Homo sapiens: one gene and its partners. The protein of the gene in region 3 purifies or fractionates together with the protein of the main gene of each other region. This does not show direct contact. Each region holds a gene or a part of one and is shown on either strand. Other genes may lie near its edges. The genes, in order: PRADC1, MARCHF6 and CMTM2.

The links.
Region 1: the proteins of CMTM2 (region 3) and PRADC1 purify together in Homo sapiens (affinity purification with mass spectrometry; one large-scale study listed by BioGRID and IntAct). This does not show direct contact.
Region 2: the proteins of CMTM2 (region 3) and MARCHF6 purify together in Homo sapiens (affinity purification with mass spectrometry; one large-scale study listed by BioGRID and IntAct). This does not show direct contact.

What each region holds. Positions count from the first base shown.
Region 1 is NC_000002.12:73,227,482-73,230,369, forward strand, and holds the end of PRADC1 (protease-associated domain-containing protein 1 precursor), read right to left. Parts: intron 2,733-2,888; coding exon 2,632-2,732; intron 2,090-2,631; coding exon 1,980-2,089; intron 1,482-1,979; coding exon 1,314-1,481; intron 1,094-1,313; coding exon 973-1,093; 3' UTR 529-972; downstream 1-528. UniProt on the Homo sapiens protein: Plays a role in the modulation of physical activity and adiposity.
Region 2 is NC_000005.10:10,402,070-10,405,727, reverse strand, and holds part of MARCHF6 (E3 ubiquitin-protein ligase MARCHF6), read right to left. Parts: coding exon 3,589-3,658; intron 3,365-3,588; exon of another isoform or gene 3,345-3,364; coding exon 3,276-3,344; intron 3,196-3,275; coding exon 3,121-3,195; intron 2,322-3,120; coding exon 2,187-2,321; intron 1,158-2,186; coding exon of another isoform or gene 1,107-1,157; exon of another isoform or gene 788-1,106; intron 171-787; coding exon 51-170; intron 1-50. UniProt on the Homo sapiens protein: Endoplasmic reticulum membrane-associated E3 ubiquitin ligase that plays a critical role in mitigating endoplasmic reticulum stress, the regulation of cholesterol and lipid homeostasis, and ferroptosis.
Region 3 is NC_000016.10:66,582,460-66,585,773, reverse strand, and holds part of CMTM2 (CKLF-like MARVEL transmembrane domain-containing protein 2), read right to left. Parts: intron 1-3,314.

The DNA of each region.
Region 1 (2,888 bases), on a different chromosome or scaffold from region 3:
AGGCTGGCATGCAGCAATGCAATCATAGCTCACTACAGCCTTGAACTTCTGGGCCCAAGTGATCCTCCCACCTCCGCCTCCTGAGTAGCTGGGACTATAGGCTCACACCACCACACCCAGCTAATTTTTAATTTTTCTGTAGAGATGGGATCTTGCTATGTTGTTGCCAAGGCTGGTCTTGAATTCTTGGCCTCAACTGATCCTCCCACCTCGGCCTCCCAAAGTGCTGGGATTACAGGCATGGGCCACCATGCCTAGCCCTGAGGTCCAGTTTGGACCCCCAGTTCCAGGCTCTAAGATGAGTCTTCTCCTGAGGGGCTGAACTCTGGCTTCCCAGGGCTTCCTTGGCTCCTAGCAGGAAGCTGTGCTGGGATCTAAGACTAGCAGTCTGAGCACTGGTCCCAAATGACCTAGGCCAGTCACTGTCCTCTGTGGGTGTTTCCTTTCCTCAGAACGACAGTATGGGACGATACGAGTGAGTTTGAAGGTCCTGCCCACCCGTGTGCTCTTATTCTAGGACACAGTTGCAACCCTGATGAGAAGCTTTATTGCTAAAAAGTCAGTGAGGGTTTATTGAGTCCCCAAACACCAGCTCTTTAAACCACTCCAACAACTGCTGTGAAGGTCACTGTGCAGAGACCCTGGGTAGGGGAGGCTGGAGCCAGGTGAGTGTGACAGGTCACAGATGGCTCTCAGGCCACCTGCCTTCAGCTCCTTTTGTTTCGGGTTCTAGCCAGAAGCCCTGGGGCCTGTCTCTTGCCTCTTCTTGTAGCATGAGACACCCTTGGGGGCCCTGGGGAAGGGAAGGCCAGTGGTGTGGCTTCCCTTTCAGCCTAGCAACGCCCAAACCCTTTTCCTCTACCTGGCTCCACTTGTCCCCAGATGCTATCTCCAAATTCCAAGTAGCAAAATTCCTGGGTTTCCCCTTCCCAGCTCAGAGTCACTTATGGCTGGAATGTGGGACAAACTCTTCTACCAGAAGGTCCAGGGCGGTTGCAGCAGCTCAAAGGTGGGGATGCTGGTGACATTGACTGGGATGGAAATGATGGCCCATGGCAGCCCATGCTGTTCCAGAGAGCGGCGGATCATGTAGCTGGGAGGGCATGAAGAGAGGTGGTGACGGTCACTTTCTTGGTACCCCATCATGCCCCACTGTCCCCATCAATCTGGGAGTTCCAAAGCCCGAGATCTTTTTTTGCCCTCTAACTGAAGCACCCCAAGTTGAGGCCTGCAAGAAGGGACTGGTGATTACCCCTGACCCAGTCATGGCGCCCAGCCTGGTGCTGATAAAGCCAGAGGCAAGGAGCCCTCACCCGTCTCGGCCGAGCAGGAAGAGGGCGGGGATGTCAGCTGTGCGCTGGGTACTGTCCTGGATCATCTCCACGTAGAAGCTGTCATTGTCAACTGCGTTGTCAGAGATGATCACCGCCCGCCCGCCGTGCTCCTGGACCACCCGAGTCTTGGAGAGGAAGGAGCAGCCCCTGGAAGAGGTGGTGATAAGACCAAAGGAAAGACAGGTCCTAGCTCCCCCTTCCCCAGACCATCACCCTGGGAGTATAGAAGGCAGACTATGAAGAATCTGTTATAAAGGCTCATAAGTAAATAGCTAAAAGCATGGATAATTTAAATACATTTCTTTTTCCTTTTTCTTTTTTTTTGGAGACTGGGTTTTGCTCTGTTGCCCAGGCTGGAGTGCAGTGACGTGATCTCGGCTCACTGCAGCCTTAACATGCGGTCAAGCAATCCTCTCACCTCAGCCTCGAGTAGCTGGGACCACAGGTGTGCACCACCATGCCCAGCTAATTTTTGTATTTTTTGTACAGACAGGGTTTCTCCATGTTGCCCAGGCTAGACATTTCTTAAAGACGCTTAAAAAGATGAAATTTTCAAAAACAGCTCTTTCAAAGCACTACTACCAATAATCTCAGAATCTGCCGTATGCCTGCCCACTCCTCGTGTCCTGCCTGCCCACTCCTTACCCCCTCTCCACCAGAGCAATCTGGTCCTGGATGAAGAAACCGTTGCTGAGTTCCCCGCAGGCCTCTGGAGGTTCAGCGGGGACAAGGTGAATCTGCTCATACCTTGTGTGCTGAAAAACATTTAACATTTGGACAGGTGAGAGTGTAATGAGACACACCTGCTTTAGGACTGGGCTGACAATCCCATCTTATTGGCACCTTATAAAGTGTGAAGGAAACATGGAGTGGTTTCTGTATCGCCAGACACTTAAACATTTTTACTTAATTCTCGCAAAGGCCTATCTGGTTGTCCTACACCACCCTACCCTTCTATGAGATAGGCAGGGGACTTGGTTGTAGATCCAGAGAGAGGAAGTGATGTGCCTTAAGTCACATAGTTCACAGGTAGAGCTGGCAGAGGAAGCTGGTGCTCTTGGCTTTTCACTTCATGTCCCCTAAAAAGACAACTTGTCCCTCCATGGTGCCTAGGTTTATATTATACTCAGGGGAGTAGCTGGAAGAGCTTCCTTTCTGTGCTGCAGCTCATGGAAGGCAGAGCTGATTCTGCTCCCTTCCCTGTCCCAGCACTCAGGTGGGATGAGAGGGTCACTGCAGCTCAGTGAGGGGAAGGGGGAGGTTGAGGATCAGAGATCAGGGGCCTCCCTTAACTTACAAAGATACCACCAAAGTCCTTGGCAGGTGTGGCTGTGAAGATGTATCGAATGTCCCCAGGACTCAGCACTTGAAAGTACAAATAATCATGGATACGGAAGCCTGAAGGATAAAGAGTACAGGTAAGAAGCCTCCCAGGAACAAGCTGGTTCAGGTTCAGATCCCAGACCCTGTGTCTTCAGCTGGGCTGGCTATAGTCTGGGCTCAGGGTCCTGGCTTCAGCCAACGGGGTCCACTAGTGGCAGGGTTGGGGGCTAG
Region 2 (3,658 bases), on a different chromosome or scaffold from region 3:
GGTTAGCACAATTAATTCAAAAAAAAAAAACAATGGAAACATCTTCTTACCACTGACAAAATAAATCTTCGGAGATGCCTATATATTGGCAAATGGATCATTTCCTGTACTGGATTGAAATCTGGATCATTCAAATTCCTTAGAAACCACAGGACACCAGGTCGAAGTACCTGCAAATATATTTTAAATACTATGAATATTCACCAATGTCTTCAAATTCTATATATGAGCTAAAACATTAACAGAAAGATAAGCACTTAGAATTATTCTGGCATCTAAAGTGGGCCCCAGAAAATGTACATGGTATTCTTAGGAAAGTAAGTTCCTAAACCAGAATCTTTATGAAAACTACCCTGTGTCTGATGATGTCCTTTGACATCATCATTCACTAGGGGCGGGGGAAAAAAAAAACATTCATTGGGTCCAATGTGTCAAGAAATCTAGACCTCTGAGACGAAAAATAAATACAACCATTACTATCGTAAAAGGGTTATGTTGCAATTTATAAATGTACTAAATAGACGGTCTGATTTGCCTTCCCCCTGTAAATGAAAATCATCACCCAAGAGGCTGCAGGTGATGGGGTAAAGGAGGAGTCTGGGTACTAGTTCTATGTGGTCCAAACTCACTGAGTTACCCTCTGTGTAACGCATCTAATCTGCCCAAACTTCTATTCTCCATCTCCTAAACAAGGGGTTACAGTGTGTGATTTCTAAGGTTCTGCCTAAGTTCCACATATTAAAATTTTATATCAACAAAAACCACCACACTGATAAAATGAAAGAAATCATTATAAAGCATTTTATTCACTTAATGAAGTAATCTGGAGTTCACATATAATTACATTTTTAAGAAACACATTTCTGTACTTGCTTTAGTTCTCAATCAGTTGTTTCAAAGAAAGAATGAAAGCTTTAGTTACCAAGAGAATTTACTGAAATTATACCGTATGATTCAGGAGAATGCTTTGGTCCCTGACCCCTCCTCCTCTTCCTCAAATCTTTCAAAGAACAAAGTACACCAAGAGCAGCATTCAGCCTTTGTGCTTTTGTGTTCCCTTCTCACTGGAATTGTCAACCTGGTCCTCCACACCCTGCACATCTCCATCACCCGTCTCCGTGTAAACCAACATTTTCAATGCTGTATTCATTTTCAGGCTATAAAATCGAGGAGAACAGGAATTGTGCCTTTGTTTCTCACTGAAACCCCAGAATGCAGTATAGTGTCCGGCACACAGTGACCATTCAGTATTTGGGGAATGACTGAGCTTGAGATGTACACTAATCAAATACTCAACTGCTTTCATCATCTTCAAATCACTAAGAACCAGATTAGAAACATAGAACTAATAAAGGTATCAGGCCAGGCACAGTGGCTCACACCTGTAATCCCAGCACTTTGGGAGGCCAAGGTGGGTGGATCATTTGAGGTCAGGAGTTCAAGAACAGCCTGGCCAACATGGTGAAACCCTGTCTCTACTAAAAATACAAAAATTAGCCGGGCATGGTGGTGGGTGCCTGCAGTCCCAGCTACTTGGGAGGTTCAAGCAGGAGAATCACTTGAACTTGGGAGGTGGAGGTTCCAAGATCATGGCACTACATTCCAGCCTGGGCAACAGAGCAAGACTCAGTATCAAAAAGTAAATAAGTAAATAAATAAATAAATAAATAAATAAATAAATAAATAAATAAATAAAGGTAATCCATCAGGCCAGTGAACTGGAATCATAAAGGACCCTCATTGTAATTCTATACTTAAGGCGCCTAAATCAAAATGATTTTACATGTCTGATCCTGCAAAACCATATCCTTTTGGTTATTTCCAGCAGTACAGTTCCTTGAAGTCTGAGACACACTCACATCATACAAAATTCCAAGAGTCTGTATTAGAGGATGGCTAAAGTATATACGAAGTGTGACAAAATGAGTACTCTTATCTTTTTCCTCAGTTGAATCGTCTTTCAAACTCAGACAGAAATATTAAAACTTGCCAATTATGGAGACAAACAACTGAAACAGTTTAAAGTAATTAAGTCAAAGTCCCCTATAAGTTATTCCCTCTTAGAATAAAATAGTAGAGAATATGATTTAGGTAGGAAATCATCATAGCCTTTGAGACATGACTGGTGGTGAAAGCAAAAGTCCTTTTTATAAATGTACAGCATCAGCATTTCCCTGTGGACTTACCTCTCTCAGTAGTAGAATGAAGGAGGCAAAGTAGAAGACATATACCATTCCCACTAGCCAATGCAGAAACATGGTAGTACCTGGAGCCGACTGAAAGCTCAGTTCTCGATCTTTCAGAGTAGCATCAAACATTTCCTGAGACAAAAGAGGACAGGTAAGAGAAATCTGTGCCCCCTACATTTGCCAAGTTAACATTTTCATCTTCTAGGAAATAAATAATCAATATGCATGCAAGGAACAATTCCTAGAACTGCAGTTCACTTAATGTCATTCCACGGTGTCACAGAACTATATACAAGATTGGCTACTGCTTCAAATATAAAGAATGATAAACCAATTAGTAAAAGCTTTATTAATACTGATTCTATTAAAGAACTATTTTTGATGAATGTAAAAAATTTTCTTGGTTATAGGTCTGCATTCTTGAGAAGTTTTAAAAGTAAGGTATGGGAGGGTAAATGTTATCTCAGAACCAAAGGCAGCTTTTCTACACATAAAATATTTTTGAAACAATCAAAAACTGATTATCACTAACAGCAATTAAAGAGTATAATCAAGACTGAGCATATTAGTTAAATCAAATGATTAGGGTTAAATTTATTACTACAAAGACAGTTTCCTTATCAAATTATTCTCTATGTATATAATGTCTTGGCATTATCTACACAAATTTACGACAGCAAAATGGGCAATAAAATCCTCCACTATTAGAAAGATTCCACCCAAACTATCCTGACATCAAAAATTTGCACAAAGCCTCAAAAACTCAGGTACTCAAGAAAAATTAACATTAAGATCCTATACTGATACACATGCCAAAAGAATAAGCAAATTATCAAATATTTGCTTTCCTTTAAAAAGAATACATGCTGAAGACTTCCTCTTTTGAAGCCCTTAAATTATGCTATTATACAATAATGAATACTCAACTTACCAAGGAACAGATATCCAGCCACCAACCACAAATGAGAGGGAATACTCCAATTTCTACCACCACTAACAAAGAGACCTTAAGTGAAAATAAAGGTCATCAGTATCACCCAAATGTAGGAGAAATCATTTCCAATTTTAAGTTATAACAGGAATTACCTTAACAACAATATAGCAGACTCCCAGTAAGCGACGAGATCTATGAAATTTCACAAGAGTTGCCAAGCCCTACAGCATCAGGTCAAGGAAAAACTGAGTATTTAAAGGTACAATGAAACAGGTAACTACTTAGCCAACATTTAGTATTTTTTGACAGAATTAATTTATTTCACATTTTGTCCACACTGACCCTTACTGCAAATACCTACAACTTTTACTAAGAGGACAAGGATAGACAAGTTTCGCCATTAATGAAGAGTTCTTTGGTATGAATAATATTAGTGTACACCCAAGTTGGTTCATTAAAGGATACATGACAAATTATCAGTGTTATTGCTAAAAGTATATACCCAACTATGGTTGTGATTAGGCCTTCAAAATGA
Region 3 (3,314 bases):
CCCGACTCCCACCTCCACCAGGCCAGGAGCCACTGACATTTAACAGATGTTAACGTCTTGCCAACGTCCCCTTTAGGCCTCTTTGAAAACAAGAAGTCCAACTTCACGGATGGAGCTGCAGCCCCCTCGCTTCCTTCCCTTTTCCTGTCCCTCATGCCTCCCTCCTCCAACTTTTGGAAGCTGATGTGCAGTTTTCCTGTCTGAATTTGTGCTTTTCTACATATTATATATTTATAAACAATGTATACTATTTTGTGTATTTCAAAATACACTTTTTATATTTAAATAAAAAGTATCCTACCTTTCAATGCTTGCTTTTTGACTTTTGAGATTTATCCACATTGAGAAATATAGATTTATTAATTTTAACTGATGTAGCCTACTATATGAATGAACGAAATGAGACACAGGGTGTTTCTACCACTCACTGCAGTCTTGAACTCCTGGGCTCAAGTGATCCTCCCCACCTCAGCCTCAGCTGGGACTATAGGCACCTGCCACTGTGCAATTAAAAAAATTGTTTTTGTAAGCTGGGCGCAGTGGCTCACGCCTGTAATCCCAGCACTTTGGGAGGCTGAGGCGGGCGGATCACCTGAGGTTGGGAGTTCGAGACCAGCCTGACCAACATGGAGAAACCCCGTCTCTACTAAAAATACAAAATTAGCTGGGCGTGGGGGTGCATGCCTGTAATCCCAGCTACTCAAGAGGCTGAGGCAGGAGAATCACTTGAACCCGGGAGGCAGAGGTTGCGGTGAGCCGAGATTGCGCCATTGCACTCCAGCCTGGGCAACAAGAGCAAAACTCCATCTCAAAAAAAAAAAAAAAAAAATTGTTTTTGTAGAGGCAGGGCTTCCCTGTGTTGCCCAGGCTGGTCTCCAAGTCCTGGACTCCTGGACTCAAGTGATCCTCCTGCCTTGGCCTCCCAAAGTGTCGGGATTATAGGTGTGAGCCACTGTACCTGGCCTATGATGTCTTCTGTTGAAGTTTTAATTTTAATGGGATACATAGTCTGTCTCTCTCCCTCCCTTCCTCTCTGTCCACAAATCCCAGGGACATTTATTGAATATTCTATTCAACTGTTCTATAATGCTACCTCCGTCATATACCAAGTTGCCATATGTTTGTAGATCTATTTCTGAGTTCTCTTTTCTATCCCTGTATTAGTCTACTCAGGATGCCATAATAAAATATCCCAGACTGGGTGGCTTAAACAACAGACATTAACTTTCTCGCAGTTTTGGAGGCTGAAGTCCATGAGCAAGGTGCCAGGAAATTCAGTTTCTGGTGAGGGCTCTCTTCCTGGCTTGCAGATGGCTGTCTTCTCACTACGTTTTCACATGGCCTTTCTTTGATGCGTGCGTGTGTATGTGTGTGCATGTGTGTGTGTGTAGAGAGAGAGCAAGCGGGAGAGAGAATTCTCTGCTCTCTTATAAAGATACTGGCTGGGTGTGGTGGCTCACACCTGTAATCACAGCACTTTGGGAGGCCAAGGCAGGCAGATCACCTGAGGTCAGGAGTTCAAGACCAGCTAGGCCAACATGGCAAAACGCTGTCTCTAGTCAAAATTACAAAATTAGCCGGGCTTAGTGGCGCATGTCTGTAATCCTAGCTACTCAGGAGGCTGAGGCAGGAGAATGCTTGAACCAGGAGGTGGAAGTTGCAGTGAGCTGAGATTGTGCCACTGCACTCTAGCCTGGGTGACAAGAGCAAAACTCTGTCTCAAAACAAACAAACAAAAGACACTTATTTGATCAGGGCCCCAATGTTCTGACCTCATTTAACCTTAACTACCTCCTTAGAGGCCCATCTTCAAGTACAGTACAGTGGGGGTTAGGGCCTCAACGTATGATTTTGCAGAGTGGGAGACACAAACATTCAATCTGTAACAATTTTGTTAGTCTTCTTGTCAATCCCTGAGCTAGTACCAAAGCTTTATGGTAAATCTGATATCTTGTTGGGTGAGTCCATCCTTGTTAGTATTTTTTCTTCTTTGATAAGAATTTTAGAATCACCTTGTAAAAGTGCCATGAAAAACCCATGTTAGGTTGAAATTTTATTTAATTTATAGATTAATTCAGAATTGAATTGACATCTCTATGATAAGTTTTCATATTTGTGAATGTGGAATGTTTCTCTATTTACATTTTCCTTTGATGTCCATTACTAAAGTCTTATAATCTCTATGTAGTGTCTTACACATCTTTCAGTAGGTTTATTCTTAGACACCTTGTAGTTTGTGTTGCTGTTTTAAGTGATTTCTTTTAAAGAGCATTTTTTTTTTTTTGAGACAGTCTCGCTCTGTCACCCAGGCTGGAGTGCAGTGGCTCCATCTCGGCTCATGGCAACCTCTGCCTCCTGGGTTCTAGCGATTTTCATGCCTCAGCCTCTCGAGTAGCTGGGATTACAGGCATGCACCTCCATGCCTGGTTAATTTTTGTATTTTTAGTAGAGCTGGTGTTTCACCATGTTGGCCAGGCTGGTCTGGAACTCCTGGCCTCAAGTGGTCCACCCACCTCGGCCTCCCAAAGTGCTGGGAGTACAGCTGTGAGCCCCCGTGCCCAGCCAAAAAAATCCTATGTTTCTCATTGTTCATTGTTGGTATTCAGGAACACTACTGCTTTTGTGTCTGGTAACCTTGTGGAACTCAATCAGTTCTAGTGATTTGACTGTAGATTCTCTTAGATTTTCTGTGTAGATAATTCTATTAGATTTTTCCTCTTGTCAATCTCTATACCTTTTGTTTTTCTTGTCATATTGAACTAAGGTCTCTATCACAATGTTGAATACAAGAGAAGCTAGTAAGCATCTCTAAGGAAATGCTCCTGAAGTGTCACCTAAAATACAATTTGTGCAGGTTTGGATAGATGTCTATTTTATTTTATTTTATTTATTTATTTTTTGAGATGGAGTCTCACTCTGTCGCCCAGGCTGGAGTGCAGTGGCACGATCTCGGCTCACTGCAAGCTCTGCCTCCCGGGTTCATGCCATTCTCCTGCCTCAGCCTCCTGAGAAGCTGGGACTACAGGCACACATCACTGTGCCTGGCTTCTTGACACCTCTTTTATTATTTTTTAGACAGGGTCTCACTCTGTCACTCAGATTGGAGTGCAGTGGCACCATCAGAGCTCTCTGTAGCCTTGACCTCCTGGGTTCAAGCCATCCTCCCACCTCAGCCTCCTGAGTAGCTGGAACAACAGGCATGTGCCACCATGCTTGGCTAATTTTTAAATTTTTTTGTAGAGACAGGGTCTCCCTATGTTGTCCAGTCTGGTCTCAAACTCCTGGACCAAAGGGACCCATCCACCTCAGCCTCC